Linked DNA regions of Homo sapiens: region 2 is linked to region 1. The links come from fine-mapping of genetic effects on gene expression. A gene starts in region 1. The other region holds a variant in brackets. All regions are shown on one strand. Distances are between the middles of the regions.

Evidence for each region. PIP is the estimated chance that this variant, and not a neighbour inherited with it, causes the effect.
Region 2: its variant is fine-mapped to the expression of POGZ in whole blood (INTERVAL, PIP 0.93).

What each region holds. Positions count from the first base shown.
Region 1 is chr1:151,456,025-151,464,730 of GRCh38, forward strand. POGZ (pogo transposable element derived with ZNF domain) reads right to left here and starts at 3,470. Exons shown (of 19, transcript NM_015100.4): 1 at 3,128-3,470. RefSeq lists silencers at 2,571-2,620, 2,811-2,860 and an enhancer at 3,691-3,740.
Region 2 is chr1:151,407,234-151,415,939 of GRCh38, forward strand. It overlaps POGZ (pogo transposable element derived with ZNF domain), which reads right to left. Exons shown (of 19, transcript NM_015100.4): 11 at 5,063-5,163; 12 at 4,392-4,538; 13 at 1,461-1,595; 14 at 1,176-1,348; 15 at 867-1,007; 16 at 2-58. Among named protein-coding and RNA genes, the nearest start is that of PSMB4, 12 kb to the left of the region's middle. The variant G/A (reference allele first, on the strand shown) is at 5,024.

The DNA of each region.
Region 1 (8,706 bases):
GAGCCACCACGCTAGGCCAAATAGTAGTTTCTTAAAGGACAGTTAACATTTTGGAATCTGAAACCACATCAATCCACTTTTTTACTGTTAAAATCCATTGCTATGTCTGGAATTTTCAAAGGATCTTTTGCCTTTGCTTGATTTTGCAACATCATGCATTGGTCATTTGCAAAGCCTAGATTTACTGAGTTATGCCCATCTTCCAAATAACATATTTCATTAAACAACATTTTAAAATATTGCAGTCCTTAACCACTGATATCATAAGGAAAGTCTTTTAAGTACTAGGAAGCTGTCAAACTCCAGCTGTCAACTTTTTAAAAATTCTAATTTTCACCCAAATTTTATCACTGGTAATAAATACTGTCAGTTGTTTTCCTAAAAGTGACAAGCTCACTTCATTTTCAAGAAATATCTGCCAAATACTAAGTGTGAAAAACCATAGTCTGCTAGTCGTTCTTTCAAGTAAAAATGCTACTCCATGAAATAAGCCATTCATTCACAACCCAATCTCACAAATGCTTTTCCTTCATGACAACAATCACACCTCCCTAGGCAGCATAAATGCTTTATCCATGTTTATTTAATCACAAATTCTTAAAAATTAAAAAGACATGTAGTCAAAAGCTAAGACTTAATAATAATAGGCCGGGCACGGTGGCTCATGCCTGTAATCCCAGCACTTTGGGACGCCGAGGCAGGTGGATCGCCTGAGGTCCGGAGTTCGAGACCAGCCTGGCCAACATGGCGAAACACTGTCTCTACTAAAAATACAACCAGGGAGGAAGAGATTGCAGTGAGCCGAGATAGTGCCACTGCACTCCACCCTGGGCGACAGAGCAAAACTCCGCCTCAAAAAAATAAAAATAGAATAATAAATTTTACTGCTTCAAGGGCATTCTCAAGTAGTTTGGTGCCCCTGACTTGCTTTGTGCTAAGGTACCGCCAGTAGTTTTACCCAGCCTTGCTTTTGAACCATCAGTGTATCAGTGAAAACAATAAATAGCATCTTACTATTATTTTGAAAATAGTTATGACCTTGAGGCTACCCTGAAAGGGTAAGAGGAGATCCCCATGGGTCATCTGTCCACACTTTGAGAACTGCTTTCCTACATTATACCACTAGTTCAAGATGGGAGTGGAAACTCTAACTAAATCAGGTTCGTCCCAAGAGTCCATTCTGTTACCTCCTTTAGTTTGAGATACACCACCAACACAGCTCTGGAAAAGGGAAGGAAATCAACGGCACAAGGTGTCACTTGTTTCAACATCTTGAACACTTTTATGTTAGACCAGTAATTCTCAATGTAGTGGTTACATTAATCAGTCTCAGCCCCAGGACTGCTCATTTGAAAATGTAAAGATGACAACCCCCCTCTGCTCCATTCAAATAAATTTGGGGGATGAGGCCCCCCAAATTGTACGTTTAACCACCTTCAAGTTACTTTTTATGCACCCCGAAGTTGAGAACGATTGTGCTAACAGTTCGAATTCAGAGTTCAAGCTCTCAGACCCTGAGCAATAGTGTCTCAAAATTAATCGTTTGCCAACGAGCAGCCCTCCCTGCCCCCTCCGTTTCCCTTTCCTCTAGTTGGGTAAATGCCTACAGAAGTAAAACCCGGCCGGGCGCGGTGGCTGACGCCTGTAATCCCAGCACTTTGGGAGGCCAAGGCGGGCGGATCACCTGAGGTCAGGCGTTCAAGACCAGCCTGGCCAACATGGTGAAACCTCGTCCCTACTAAAAATACAAAAATTAGCCGGGCGTGGTAGCACATGCCTGTAATCCCAGCTACTAGGAAGGCTGAGGCAGGAGAATCACTGGAACCCGGCAGGCGGAGGTTGCAGTGAGCAGAGATCGTGCCACTGCACACCAGCCTGGGCGACAAGAGTGAAACTTCGTCTCAAAAAAAAAAAAAAAAGTAAAACCCCATTTCTGTGGAGTTTTGAGCGGCGGTAAGAGGTGTCTACGGGCTTGGAAGGACGGGCTACACCGCTTGCATCAAGACGGCGGCTGCTGTGAGATAGTCCAACTGCATCTTAGTTTCCATTTCGAAAATGAGACTGGCCACTAAATGACTCTAAGGACTCATCAGCACTACCTTTTTCTGAACTAAGAATGTCTAAGACAAGTGCTACTAGCAGTTTGAGAGAATCCCACATCTGGAGAGGAAGGAAATAAGAACAACACGCAGAAAGACGGAAAACAAATAGATCAATGACAGTACTCCTTTGCAAAAGGTGCCAAGAATCTAAATAAAATAGTCCCCGGGATAAACATGGCGCCCACCGCGGCAGGACATAATCACCAGAAAATAAAGATTCCCCGCCTCATTCCATTTTATAAATCACGGCGCCATCCCAAAAGAAATTTGGGGACCGAGGGAGGAGACTTCGTAAACTAGCTGCAGTGCACTAAGGCTTAGGATGTACTATTAGACCAAGCAGAGATTACATAACACAAGGGATCGGCTCAGCAATCACTCATTTTCCTCCTCCCGCTCAAAACGAGCGCCCCACTCCTTCTCGGAGCGGGAATGGGGCGGGGAGGGCCGCGCACCCCCACCCCCAGGGGCCGCTCCGCCGCCGCCCGCCCCTCCGCCGCACGGCCTCGCCCCCTCGCCGGCCCCTCCCGCCGCGCCCCGCCGTCTCGCCACCGCCCGCGCCCCCGCCCCCGCCCCTTCCCCAGCGGGCCACCGCCCGCGCCCGCGCCGCCCACTCCTCCGAGACGCCTCGCGCCGAGCGTGCGTGTGGACGTCGGGCTGTGTGCGGGGCCGTGGGGCGCGAGTGCGCGCGCGCGCGCCGCGGCGGGCGCCGGGGGGCGGGGGCGGCCGGCCAGCCGGCAGGCAGGGACCTCCGCCGCCGGCCCTTCGCGCGGCTCCCGCGGCCCGGGGCGCACGCACACACACTCGCGCTCGCGCGCCGCACCCCGCGGCCGCCCCTGCCGCGGGCCGCGCCGCCACTCGCGGTGGGCGGGGGCGCGCACCGCCGGCCCCCCGCCCCCACCCCCGCGCGTACCGGCCCCATCCCCCTCTCATTGTCTCGCCTCTGAACGCCTCGCCGAGCGAAAAGATAACGGAACCCCCGGGAGCAGGGGGTGGGGAGAGAGAAGGCTCGCTCGCTCACTCACCTCCTGTGGTCGTCGCCGCCGGTAGTCTGACCCGAGGAAGGCGCCGTCGCCTTAAAGGGACCTTACACCCGGCGCCAGAAGGGGGTGGGAGCAGGGGGAGGGGACGGGGGCTTGGGGGGAGACGAAGAAGAGGTAACCGTTGAAAGCTCGTCTCCCCAAGGGTGAAAGGAAGCCTCCCTCGGGTTCGAGTGATTCGGGGTGGATTTTTTTCCCGAGGGGGGCGGGGGGGCCCCGAGGGAGGGGGGTGGGGGGGCCAAGGAATGCGGCTCCGTGTACGGGAGCTGGCGCGGGGGAGAGAGACGCCGACTCCCCCCACCGACCCTCTCGCCCCGCGGAGGGATACGGCTCGTCACTTCCGCCCTCCCCTTTTTCACGGCCTCCCAATTGGTCGGAGCGCGCTGCACGTCATGGGCTCATCCAAACCCCTGCCCGGGCTTCTTTTCTAGTCAAGTTTGGCTGGGCCTGCAAATAAATAAATAAAGGAAAACATTTTTTGTAATGAAAAAAGAATAATTAGCTTCAGAAGCTATATCTAAATTTTGGTGAGAAAAATGAGACTTCCAAAGAAAATATTCCCCAATTTACTTGCCAAGAGTTTCCAAGGAAGTGTTGGGAGGCTCCCCCACTTTCCACTCAAGGCTTAGACCCAGTCAAGAGGGAGACTTCATGACACAGGCCAGGTGGTGAGGCCCAGTGGCACCAACAACTGTCATTGGAACAAAGAACAAAATGGCACTCACTCTTTCTCAAGAGACACTCGGCCAAGTAACCTTGTGGCTGCGGCCTTGTTTAAGTGAAGAACTTTTAAAAGCCATTTTGATCCTCAAGCCCTTCTGGATCCTGGAAAGAAGTGGCACACGATTGTTAAAGCGATTATTGTGATGGAAACTGCTTTGCTCCCATTGTGAGTAGATTCAGCAGAGATCCCCAGTTCCAAGAAACCACACACACTCCACATCCTTATGCTTTTTGCTCCAATCAAGGCTGAGATGGGTTGGCTCAAAGAAATTGGTTAGTCCACTCAAACGACCATCCACCTGTTTATTCTTCCCCAGACAAAAACTACCTCTTTTCAGGTAGCTAAGAAATTTTGTCCTTTATTGCCTTCTGAGATTATAAAAATGTAATATTTTCCTTGAATATTTGAAAATGTTTGCTATTTAAGCAATACACAAATATTTGCTTCAAACCAAATGTGAAATCAAGGTACTTGGTGCAGAAAGGGGAAATCCAGAACTATGTTTATTTGTGCTCTTTATATACACACTCCATTCAAACCACCAGACTGAAAATAGGCAGTGGAAGTAGGCATTCCAAATTGTATGCACCTGCCCGTGTGAGTGTGCACATGTGCATACACATACACACACTGCCACCACCCAGTTTCATTCCATTTCATACCAAAACCATGTGAGTGATTTCCACTAGTGTAGGATGCTTAGGAAGGACTTCATTATTTGAATGAGAAGAATCACTAAATCCTTCTGAAAATACTTCTGAAGACTTTCCAGACCTGATCTGGAGAAGCCCATATTAGGATTATGGGATCAATCACCAAAAGACTACATGAAACTCAAATCCTATTTTATACTGTCGTGTAATTAGTATAATTCATTATATATGTTATATTTACATTATGTATATTACGTTATTAACCTTTGAAAAATTCCAACATATTTCCCCATGCCCTGTCAATTTATTCTCCCAGCCAATGAGATCTAGCGCAGACTATGCCATATACCGTTGACCAGTAACTGTTAGCATGCTTTATTGAAAATGGATCATGCATCCATTCATTCATTCAATGAATATTTATTGGGGGCTGGGCATGGTGGCTAACACCTGTAATCCCAACACTTTGGAAGGCCAAGGGAGGAGGATCACAGCAGTCTGAGGGCAGCCTGGGCAACTTAGCAACATCCCATCTCTACAAAAAAAAATTTTTTTTTTTTAAACAGAGTCTCGCTCTCTCCCCCAGGCTGGAGTGAAGTGGCGCGATCTCGGCTCACTGCAACCTCCGCCTGCTGGGTGCAATTCTCCTGCCTCAGCCTCCTGAGTAGCTGGGACTACAGGCGTGCGCCACGATGCCTGGCTAATTTTTTCTGTTTTTAGTAGAGACGGGGTTTCACCAAGCAGGCTGGTCTCGAACTCCTGACCTCGTGATCTGCCCGCCTCCGCCTCCCAAAGCGCTGGGATTACAGGCGTGAGCCACCGTGCCTGGCCCCAAAAAATTTTTTTCATTAGCTGGTTGTGGTATTCCTAGATACTTGGAAGACTTGGGAGGATCACTTGAGGCCAGGAGTTTGAGACTGCAGTGAGCTATGATGACACTACTTGCACTCTAGCCTGGGAGGGACAGAGCAAGATCCTGTCTCAAAAAAAAAAAAAAAATTATTGAGCACATGTACTAGGCACTGTTTTAGGTGCTGGGAATACAGCAGCAACAACAACAACAAATACCTGAATCTGTGGGATTTATACTCTAGAAGGAAAGAGACATAAAATATACACATAAACAAATTGTTCTATTGTCTATTGTTAAATAACAAATGACCCCGAACTTAGTGGCTTAAAACAACAATTTCATTACCTCTCATGGTTCTGGGAGGTAATTAGGCTCAGCTAAACAGTTCTCACTTGGGAGTCTCGTATGCAGTGGCTAGGGCTGAAGTAATCTCAAAAGCTTCCTTACATGTCTGGAAGTTGAGGTTGACTGTTGGCTTGGACCGCAGCTGGGGTTGTTGGCAGACCATTTACAAGTGGCTTCTCCATGTAGCCTGGGCTTCCTCATATCATAGTGGCTGAGTTCCAAGACTGAGTGCCCCAAAAGGACCAGACAGAGATCGTGACCTAGTCTCAGAGGTCATATAGTGTTACTTCCATTACAGTTACAGGATGGAGAGCATAGATCCCCATCTCTCAACGGGAATAGTGGAAATGTCACATTGTAAGAAAGTGTGCGGAAAGGGAAATCTTGTGGCCATCTTGGAAAATGCAATCTGATATACATTATGTAAATAAATATGGATTATATGAAATGGTGATAGGTGCTATGAAGGGTAAAGGGCAGGATAGGGGAATTAGGAGTGTGGTGCAGACATGGGGGTGGAGAATTTGCTATTTTATGTGGGGTGATTGGAGAAGTCCTTGTTAAGGTGACATTTGGGCAAAGACCTGAAGAAAGTGAAGCAAAGTTTAGGTTTTACCTGTAGTGAAAATGAAGCTGCTGGAGGATCATAAAGCAAGTAGTGACACGGCCTGACTCACGTTTTTAAAGGATCACTGTGGCTGCTTGTGAAGAATAACTAATAGAGGCAAGGGCAGATGCAGGGAGACCAGATAGAAGGCTATTGCAATAATCCAGGTGAGAGTTGATGGTAGCTTGGACCAGGATGGGAGTTGTGAAGCTGCTGCTTCAGGTGATTGAGTTCTGTGGTGTGTTACTTACTCCTCTCTATTTTTCTGTCATTTAGTTTGTGCCCTGGGAGACAGTTTTGACCCATAATGCCCAATAAAATGAGTGATGGTGCTATGCCTGCCACCAAGAATACAGAAAGTCTATCATGCTAAATGTAAAAGTGGGAGTTTTGCAGGATCTGGAGGCACCTTTGAGGAAATGGGTGAGGAAACAGAGGGTAAAGATCAACAGGCAATTAGGGAATGGAGTGTCTTTTGACGTTGTAAAAGGTATCCTGGCCAGGTGTGGTGGCTCATGCCTGTAATCCCAGCACTTTGGGAGGCCGAGGTGGGTGGATTACAAGATCAGGAGTTTGAGACCAGCCTGGCCAACATGGTGAAACCCCATCTCTACTAAAAATACAAAAATTAGCCAGGCGTGGTGGCACATGCCTGTAGTCCTAGCTACTCAGGAGGCTGAGGCAGGAGAATCGCTTGAACCCGGGAGGTGGAGGTTGCAGTGAGCCGAGATCACACCACATCACTCCAGCCTGGGTGACAGAGTGAGACTCCATCTCAAAGAAAAAAAAAAAAAAAGGAAATGATGAGCAAAGACATTTTATACCTTCAGAAGATTTCAAGGAAACTCTGCCACCTTACATTACAACACTGGTGCAGCACTTCAAAAGAGACTATACAGTTAACACTGCTATTTCCAGAAACGTATTCCTTGTGCTAAAGAGAGAATGCTCATATTAATTTGGACAGTGTTGGAACATTTTGCTTCTTCAGCTAAAACACAGGTTTCCAGAGTGAAGTAACAGAACTGATAGCTTTGGTCTCTCTTTTGGACCATCTGGATAATGGTTTGAACCATCTTGATGATGATGGGAAACCCAAGTAGTAGAACAAATAACCTGAATCAGATCCTTAGAAATCAACTCGTATGTGCCTCTGTAACATACTGGGGAGGAATCTGAAAGCCAATCCAGTCTGATATGTTGAAGAAATTTGATCCTAATAGTGGTACTCCTAAAAATTATTCCAGTCTTCAGTAGCCAACTTAGAAACTTTTTCTAAGAAAGAAAGTCAAAGGTTAATGGATGTCCCAAGCTGAGCTTTTCAGTTACATAGCTGGAGAGTGTTTCTTTTCTACAGTTTATGGAAATACTTACTTGCTTCCTTGACTTACGGTTTCTGCCACAAGTTGAAAATTGGGGCTGGGCACGGTGGCTCATGCCTGTAATCCCAGCACTTTGGGAGGCCAAGGCAGGCAGATCACCTGAGGTCTGGAGTTCAAGACCAGCCTGGCCAAAGGTCTTTAGTAGAGATGGTGAAACCCCATCTCTACTAAAAATACAAAAAATTAGCCAGGCGTGGTGGAACGCGCCTGTAATCTCAGCTATTTGGGAGGCTGAAGCAGGAGAATCACTTGAACCCAGGAGGTGGAGGCTGCAGTGAGCCAGGATTGCACCGAGCCAGGATTGCACCATTGCACTCCAGCCTGGGCAAGAAGAGTGAAACTCCATCAAAAAACAAACAAACAAACAACAACAACAAAACATACAAAAGAAAATTGGAACCACCTGTAGCTTGGAGAATGTTAAAGAAGAGAGACAAATGATTTCAGCATGTCTTCAAAAGCATTGAGTCATGGATGCCCTCGGTGGCATCATTTTGCTAAAATGCAGACCTAATCACTTATTGTTCAGGTTCAGCGTGAGGTTGACTGGTATGTGTTTGGGCGGGGAGTAGGGAGGCTCAGATGGTGAGGTTAGTCCAGGCAGAAATAAGCTTCGTGGGAGATAATGCCAGATTTCTTTAAGAAATGGGTAACAGCCGAACACGATGGCTCACGCCTGTAATCCCAACACTTTGGGAGGCGGAGGTGGGCAGATCACAAGGTCAGGAGTTTCAGACCAGCCTGACCAAAATAGTGAAACCCCGTCTCTACTAAAAATACAAAAAATTAGCCGGGTGTGGTAGTGCATGCCTGTAATCCCAGCTACCTGGGAGGCTGAGACAGGAGAATTGCTTGAACCTGGGAAGCGAAGGCTGCAGCAAGCCGAGATCACGCCACTGCATAGCATCCCGGGCCACAGTGTGAGACTTCGTCTCAAAAAAAAAAAAAAAAAAGAAAGAAAGAAATGGGTATCCCACTCTCTGTAATGCACACTCAGGAT
Region 2 (8,706 bases), 49 kb before region 1:
CCTCACAGAATTTTTAAACAAAGCCAAATACTTGGGGCTCTTCCGTGGAACATGATTGCTGAGAAAGACAAAGAAGTGGTATGAGTTACGGAGTTCTGCTGGCTAAGCTAGAGATCACCAGCCAGTGACAATGCCCCCAACAAAAGAGACACTTCTTCAGTGCACCCTAATCTCAACCTAAGCCAGTTTTCCTGTCACCATGCTTCTTAAACTTTAATATGCATACAAGTCACTGAGGATCTATTAAAATTCACATTCTGGTTCAGTAGGCCTAGGGCGGGGCTGAGAGTCAGCATTTCTAACAAGCTCCCACCTAATACTACTGGTACTTGAATAGCAAGGCCCTATGAAATTAGAGCACAGACCATCAAAACCGAAAAAACAGAGCCTCTCACTCTGCTAGGAGAGAAGAACAAATAGCTCTAAGAGTTGAAGGAGGAAACATATTAGAAGCAGGGGAGAAAATGAAATGAGTGCTCAAGAATCTGGCTGGGGCCGGGCGCAGTGGCTCATGTCTGTAATCCCAGCACTTTAGGGAGGCCGAGGCAGGTGGATCACCTGAGCTCAGGAGTTTGAGACCAGCCTGGCCAACAAGGTGAAACCCCGTCTCTACTAAAAATACAAAAAAATCAGCCAGGCATGGTGGTGCACACCTATAATCCCAGCTACTTGGGAGGCTGAGACAGGAGAATCACTTGAACCCAGGAGGCAGAGGTTGCAGTGAGCCAAGATCATGCTATTGCACTCCAGCCTAGGGGACAGAGTGAGACCCTGTCTTCAAAAAAAAAAAAAAAAAAAGAAGAAGAAGAAGAAGAAAAAAAGAATCTGAACTCTCAAGCTAAAACACTGGTTAAAAACCAACTTACTTGATCATGTGGTTGGCATAAGCTCGAGAACAGCAGGTGCTATAGCGACACAGAGAGCAGTGTACGTAAGTAGGGAAATGATTAGGGAAGTCTGGGATCTCGAAGCTGCACTCCAGGCATGTCTGCCGGCCCATGACACTCCTGTGGGGGAAAAAAAAAAAGAATTCTCATTACTGCCTCATGGGTCCCCAAAATGTAGGATTTTCAGACAACAAACCCTGCTAAAAAGCTACCAGATTGCACTGTGTATCAGGAATAATCCTGGCCACCCAGTCCCCACCCGCCCAGCACTTAGAAGAAGGCGCTGACATTTTCCTAACAGCTCTCTTCTGGATGCTGCGCTGGACAGGGGGATAAAGGAAGACAGGCAGAGGGTCCATTGAGGAGGTCAGCGGTGCTGCCTCCTGCAAGGCGCTGGGAGGTGTATCATTAGAGGATACAGGAACAGTTCGTGGCTGCCCTCGGGAAGCCCGGATTGTCACCTGAGAACCAAGGGAAGTAACAATGAGACATCACCCACACTAAATTTCAGAATACTGAAAATCTCTATTCCTCCCTCCCTGGGCCTATAAAAGACACTGGCAAACTCTTTACCTTGGTGCCTGGTTTCAAGCCCTCCAGCTGCTTGGGTTTACGGAAGGTTTTATGGTGTTGAAGCTTGTGTTCAATTTTGTCCTTGGCAAAGAGAAACTGCAGCCGGCATTTGTTGCAGTGATAAACATTTCTCTTCTGAAGTGGGGGAGGGAAAAAAAGAGACAAAATCCCTTAAAGGTTCCTAATAAATTTTCTTTTTTGAGGAGAAAGCAGATCAATGTCAACCATATCATTCTTCCCACCTTTCTGTTGATAATTTAAGAGAGTAAGAAAGAAATATGCAACATGACCACAAAACCTACCATTGAGAATCATCACCTCCCATGATATCAAAGAAAGATGGATTCTAGTCCAGGATGACTAAGTTCTCAAATCATCCTTTCCTGACTTGTTTTAACAATTTGAATGAGTGATGTAACCTTTATTTGTATTATATCTTTACACTGCTGACAACTGGACATTCTTCTGGACATTCTTCATTCTTCTTTTTTTAAAAAAGGACAATGTACATAGTAAACTAAAGTCATACTTTTTTTTCTATACTCTTCCAACTTTGCTTTCAACTCCAACACTCAGTCCCCTTCCATACAAACAACTTATTACCAGTTTCCTGAGTATGCTTTCGTGGGCAGTCTACACATATAACTGTATCACAAATACATTCATATCCAATCATTACCTGCCTCGCCCCCTTTTTTTGAGACAGGGTCTCTCTCTGTAGCCCAGGCTGGAGTGCAGTGGCATGTTCATAGCTCACTGCACGTCCCAAGTAGCTGGGACTACAGGCACGTGCCACCACGCCCGGCTACTTTTTGTATTTTTTTGTAGAGACGGGGTGTCACCATGTTGCCCAGGCTGGTCTTCAACTCCTGGGTTCAAGTGATCTACCTGCCTTGGCCTCCCAAAGTGTTGGGATTACAGGCGTGCATCACTGTGCCTGGCCCTTACTTTTTTCCCTTTCCTTTTTGTAGAGATGTTGTCTCACCATGTTGCCCAGGCTGGACTCCACCTCCTGGGCTCAAGTGATCCTCCCACCTCAGCCCTCTTCTTTTTCTCCTTTTAACACAAATGATAGCACTTGTCTATACCTTGCTGTTTTCTCACTTAACACATCAGTATATACAGATATGTCTCCTGGTGAGACCACTTTGAGGATTCAGTCTGCCTAGTATTGAAGTCCTTCAAAAATAGAACCCATGTCTATGATTTTCTTTAGTAGGATAACAAAGCTCTGTAAGCTTAGGCTAAGAGACAATTTCCATGCCCCTATTTGGAAATACAGTTGTGGTAGACAATCAGCAGTCACTACTGTGCAAAGGAGACTATGAGTGTAATAGGGTACATATGTTTGTGTGCATATGTATGTGACTATTAAGCACACATGCACTCATCTTATTCTCCATTTTGAATCCTCTCTTATATACTATATACCTTTCACTCTCCTCTAGTGGCTCTCTTCTTGTAGTATTTTAAAACGAAGTCATAGCTTTTCATCTTATAAGGAAAATAAAAGCAATAAAAAACTCTTCTTTGCCACTTCTTCCTCTGGATTTACCTACCCTGGGTCCTCCCTTTTTATAAATAAACTTCTTTAAATACATCGTCTTCATTTCCTTACCTCTCATTCATTTGTTCTGCTGAAATGTGACTTCCACCCTACCAACCAACAAAATGGCTCTCATCAATGTTGCTAAATTAAAGGCCTGTTTCTAAGTCTCTATGTTGCTTGACACCTTCCTGTAACATATGACATTTTGATCACACCCTTTTCTTTAAAACACTTTCTTCTCCCCAGTTTCCTTAAGGTTAAGACTCTTCTGGTTTTCCTCCTAGTACTATGGTGGTTGCTTTATAGATAAGGGACTTCAAATATCCTAAGCCTTCTCTTATTCTCAACAGGGTTGGGGGGCCCATGGTATTTAAGTTTAAAATCTATAGGATTTATATAACGCTGATTCCTAAATCTTTTCTACAACCCAGAGTTCTCTCACAGGCTTGAGATCTATTATCCAACAGCTACACTTGACATCCACAGATACTGCTAACTTACAATATCCAAGCTCATGATCTCCCCCCTCACAAATATACTTTCTCTATTGTTTCTATTTCAGCAAATAGTTCCCTCATTCACCCAACTGCCCAAGACAGAATCTTAGGCACTATTCTTAACTACTGCATTGCTACCTTCACCTAATCCATCTCTACATCATAAATATCACAAATCTTCTGAATATCTCTCAACTCTACCCTCTTTTTATTTCAAAAGCCAATAGCCACTATCATCTCTCACCTAAACTACTGAAAAAGGCCTTCTAGCTAGTTTCCCTAACTGTAGTCTCAATCTCCTTTAATCCATTCTCTGCAGTGCAGGCAGTATAAAGCCTTAACTAAAGCTGAACACATCACTCCAGGGCTTAAAACCCCTTTAGTGGCTTCCCAGTGAATTCTTTTCATGGCTTAAAAGATCCTCCATGATCTGTCCCTGCCTAACTTCCAACCCCTCTGTCTCTTACACCCTACACTGAATCTCTCTCAATTTCTTGAACCTCCACAATTTTGCTTTGTGCCTTGGGCACACTGTTCTTCGTCTTATTTCATCTGGCTCATTCTTATTCATCCCTCAGGTATTGAACAACACTTCTTTCTGGAAGCCTTACTAGGCACCCAGAATAGCTATGTGATTTTCTATATCCTATAATTTCCCCAACACAGTACTCTTCATGTTTTATTGTATTGTTTGCCTTGTTTACTACTAAATCTCTAGCATCTAGACTAGTACATGGCACATTAAGTGAATTCAATAAATTTCTGCAAACATATGCATATTATAATCTCTGCCCAAATTATTTGCCTAGCTCAGCCCTGGCCCCAGCATCCATGTTTAAAAAAAAAAAAAACAAGAGAATATGGGAATTGCTTGGTGCCTAGTACCTGGTGCCTCATGTAATGCTGTTGGAATGCATTGCCATTTTTGAAGACCTTCAGGCAATAAGGGCAGAGCAGATGCCGGGTATCCTCATGGATCATCCGAAAATGGACATCTACCTCAGAGTAGAGTGAGGAGCGATATTGACACACCTGAGTCACATAGGAGGGAAAATAAGGCTAAGAATGAAGTGAACAACTGAGAGGCCTTAAAAAAAAAGGTAGCAACAAAAATTTTTAAATTAAAAAAAAAAAGTTTTCTCAAATGCATAGAAATCAAATTATTTTCCTGACTTTGTAATGCTGGGCTATGTTTGTGATAGGTTTAGCTATTACTTTAAAAATAGGAAGGGACAGAAAGTCTAAGAATAATCCATGTTCTCTAACTAAGAAAAATAAAGCCTTTTCTGTCAATTTCCAAAGGGCACGTTCAGGAGACAGACACTCCCTTAGAATATGCACATGTTCCCGGCTAGTCTACTTGTGGACATGTTCTTTTATGTTTTTCTCCTGCATGGAAACCCTGAAGATAAACTGTGTTTACTATTTCTTCTGTACCTACTCAGAGTTCCTAAACTGAGTGTATGCAGTAGGTGGTCAACAATATTCATTAGTAAATTCTTTGTATTCTTCCTGAG[G/A]GCAAAACTGCTAAAACTCCCTGGAGAAAAAGGCAATACCTGGCAAACATAAGGCATCTCTCCAGGCTTATGAGTATCCTTCATATGCTGGAGAAATAGTGGCTCACTTTCAAACGCCCATTCACAGATCTTGCACTTGGCTGTAAGAAGAAAAGTAATCAATAAATCCACTTGAAAATAAGACAAAAGTCCTGCTGACTCACAATCTTTATTTTCTCTGCCTCCTTTATTTTGATTTTCAACAATCAGTAAATCATAGGTCCCTTCTGTTCTTTCTTTAAATGGCTCCACCTTAACATATATGTTGCTGATAATCTTATGTACGTAGCTCAGACTTCTTACCAAAGCTTCATTCTAGATTTTATCTATAAGACATTTTAAATTGGTTATTCTATCGTCAACTCTAACCTAATTCAGCATCCTCCTGTCTTACCACTGTTTCCCTTTTTCCTTTCCCCATTTCTTCCTGAGCTCAAAATTTAGGCACTATCTCGGATTCCAAACCCTGCATTCTGTCACCATTATTTCAAACTGCATGTAGGAACTGTCACTTCTCTATACTTATAATAAGGCAAAAACTTGGTACTAGCCCATATGATTTCCCACTGCTAATCAGCTGGCCTCCAATACCTCCTACTCTCTTTGAAATTGTCCATTTTGTCAAGCTTATGAGAAAAAATTTTGACAAAATTTTATGACACAAATGAACAATTTTGTCAAACTTCTGAGACAATTTTTGGTAATTTCATGTTGGCCAGGTTGGTCTCGAACTCCTGACCTCAGGTGATCTACCTGTCCCAGCCTCCCAAAGTGCTGGGATTATAGGTGTGAGCCACCGTGCCTGGGCTTTTTTTTTTTTTTTTTTTTTTAAGAGACAGAATCTCACTGTTGCTCAGGCTGGAGCATGATCATAGCTCACCGCAGCCTCCTGAGTAGCTAGGACTATCCTTTGAGCTCAAGCGAGCCTCCTGTTTCAGCCTCCCAAGTAGCTAGGACTACAGTGGTGCACCACCATGCCCAAGTAATTAAAAAAAATTTTTTTTTGTAGGGACAGGGTCTCGCCATGTTGCCCAGGCTGGTCGGAAACTCCTGGCCTCAAGCAATCCTTTTGTCAATCCACTTCAGTCTCCCAAAGTGCTAGAATTACAGGTGTGAGCCAGTGCACCGGCCAATTTTGGTAAGACTTTTAACTGCTACATATTTTTAATTATACAGTATGGCAAAAAGAGAGAGATTATTTACATTTTTGTCACTTTAATGGAATTAGTTTCAAGTTTTTGCAAATATGAAAACTGGAAGCTTAAAGCCTTGGGCATTTACTGGACAATGTCTAACCTCCCCCCGCCCCCAGCCCCCTACACCCCAGCCAAAGAAATATGAATAAAGTTGAAATAATTCTTTTTTCTTTTTTTAACTACCGAGAACCCTGGATTTTTGTTTTGAGACAGAGTCTCGTTCTGTCTCGCACGCTAGAGCGCAGTGGCTCAATCATGGCTCACTGCAACCCTGACCTCCCAAGCTCAAGCAATCCTCCCATCTCAGCCTCCCAAAGTACCAGAATTACAGGTATGAGCCACTGTGCCTAGCCAAGTAATTTTTTAAAGTAAAACAAACAAACAAAAGCCAGGGGTTCTTAATCTGGGGTCTATGGAACAGGCCTCTAGGAATCCAGGCTTTCTCTGAAATTATTTGCAAAAGAGTAAAATGTAGATTTTTCTAGGAAGAGGATTCAAACATTTCATATTTATTCTCAAAGAGGTCTGCAACTCCATTTAGAAACACTGTCTACAGGTACATTAGGTGCTATGAGGACATGGATAAATAAGAAATTCTGCATAAAGGAATGAGGAAAAGCTATAACAACATATAAAAGCTGAATTGTCAAAGAATGGGGCTCAGCCAGCCAGAGAGAGGACCAAGAGAAAAGCAGGAGGAAAGGCAAGTAGGTATGAAAGTTAACCACATGTTTGGGAAACAGTTAACTAGCAACATAACGATATTATCTCTTTTCCACTCACCCCCCGATTTGTTTACCTCTCTCATTTTTCTCTTCTAGAACACCTTTAAGCAATATTTTGTCCAGGCCTTTCTTAGTCTATGTTTTCCCTGGGCAATCTCATTCACTCTTTCTCCTATAACCTATTTATCAGCTCTATTTTCACAGCTGTCATGCAACATCAATAATAAAAACACTTATTAAGCAATTTCTAATGTACAAGCATCAGGTTAAGATTTACATGTGTTGGCTGGGCACGGTGGCTCATGCCTGTAATCCCAACACTTTGGGAGGCCAAGGCAGGCGGATCACCTGAGGTTGGGAGTTCAAGACAAGCCTGACCAACATGGAGAAACCCTGTCTCTACTAAAAATACAAAATCAGCCGGGCACAGTAATGCATGTCTGTAGTCCCAGCTACTTGGGAGGCTGAGGCAAGAGAATCGCTTGAAGCTGGGAGGCAGAGGCTGCGGTGAGCCAAGATGGCGCCACTACACTCCAGCCTGGGCAACAAGAGCGAAACTCCCTCAAAAAAAAGAAAAAAAAGATTTACATTGTGTTATCTCAAGAAAACTAGTGAGGTAGGAACTCAAATATAAGGGGATTTAAGAGATCTCTGGTAACCTTTGACACATCAGTTCTACAGGGGAAGGAGCTAATACAGAAAAAGATTCAAGAGGGAAAATGAATTGATTCTCCATGGTGGCTGTCCTAACTGTCCCTCTGAGCACCATCACCCTCCTTAACACCTAACACAATCTCCTACTTTGAGGAAATAGGCATGAACAACTGTAACTTCTGCTGCTTGTTTTCCAAATTATGGAAGGATAGATCTCTTGTACCTTCCTAAGGCTCATCCAACCTCATCATGCCATGTATTCCAAGATTTTGTCAATTTGTTTTCCCTGTCTTCAATCTTCCCCAACCCCGACAGGCTCCGACTCCTAAACATGGTTAAGCTCCTTAAAGCATCCTTCTCTCAATCCTATTTCTTCCTCAAACTTTCTCCTTTCCACTAACACAAGATTTTTTGAAAGATTAGAATAACCTACATCTGTTACCTTTAATGAGATGCTCAGGAAGTGGAGGTAACAATGCCAGGAAGAAAAATGTTATAATATTTGAAGAAATGGGCCGGGTGTGGTGGCTCACGCCTGTAATCCCAGCACTTTGGGAGGCCGAGGCCGGTGGATCACGAGTTCAGGAGATCGAGACCATTCTATCCTGGCTAACACGATGAAACCCCGTCTCTACTAAAAATGCAAAAAAATTAGCCGGGCGTGGTGGTGGGTGCCTGTAGTCCCAGCTACTCGGGAGGCTGAGGCAGAAGAATGGCGTGAACCCAGGAGACAGAGCTTGCAGTGAGCCGAGATCGCACCACTGCACTCCAGCCTGGGCAAAAGAGCGAGACTCCGTCTCAAAAAAAAAAAAAAAAAAAAGAATATTTGAAGAAATGTACCTTAAGATAGCCACTATGGAAAACAGGAATAATAACTAACAGTCTTAACCATTTTTTAGTCCCAAATCTCACACTAACAAAAGCTATGCAACCTCTCCCTTGAAAAATGCACACACACAGGCAAAGTTTATATGTAATTTCAAGGGGCTCACAGGACACCTCACCACCAAGCAGGTTAAGATTTCTGTATTAGACATAAATATTAAAAGACTATGAATCAGGGCCGGGT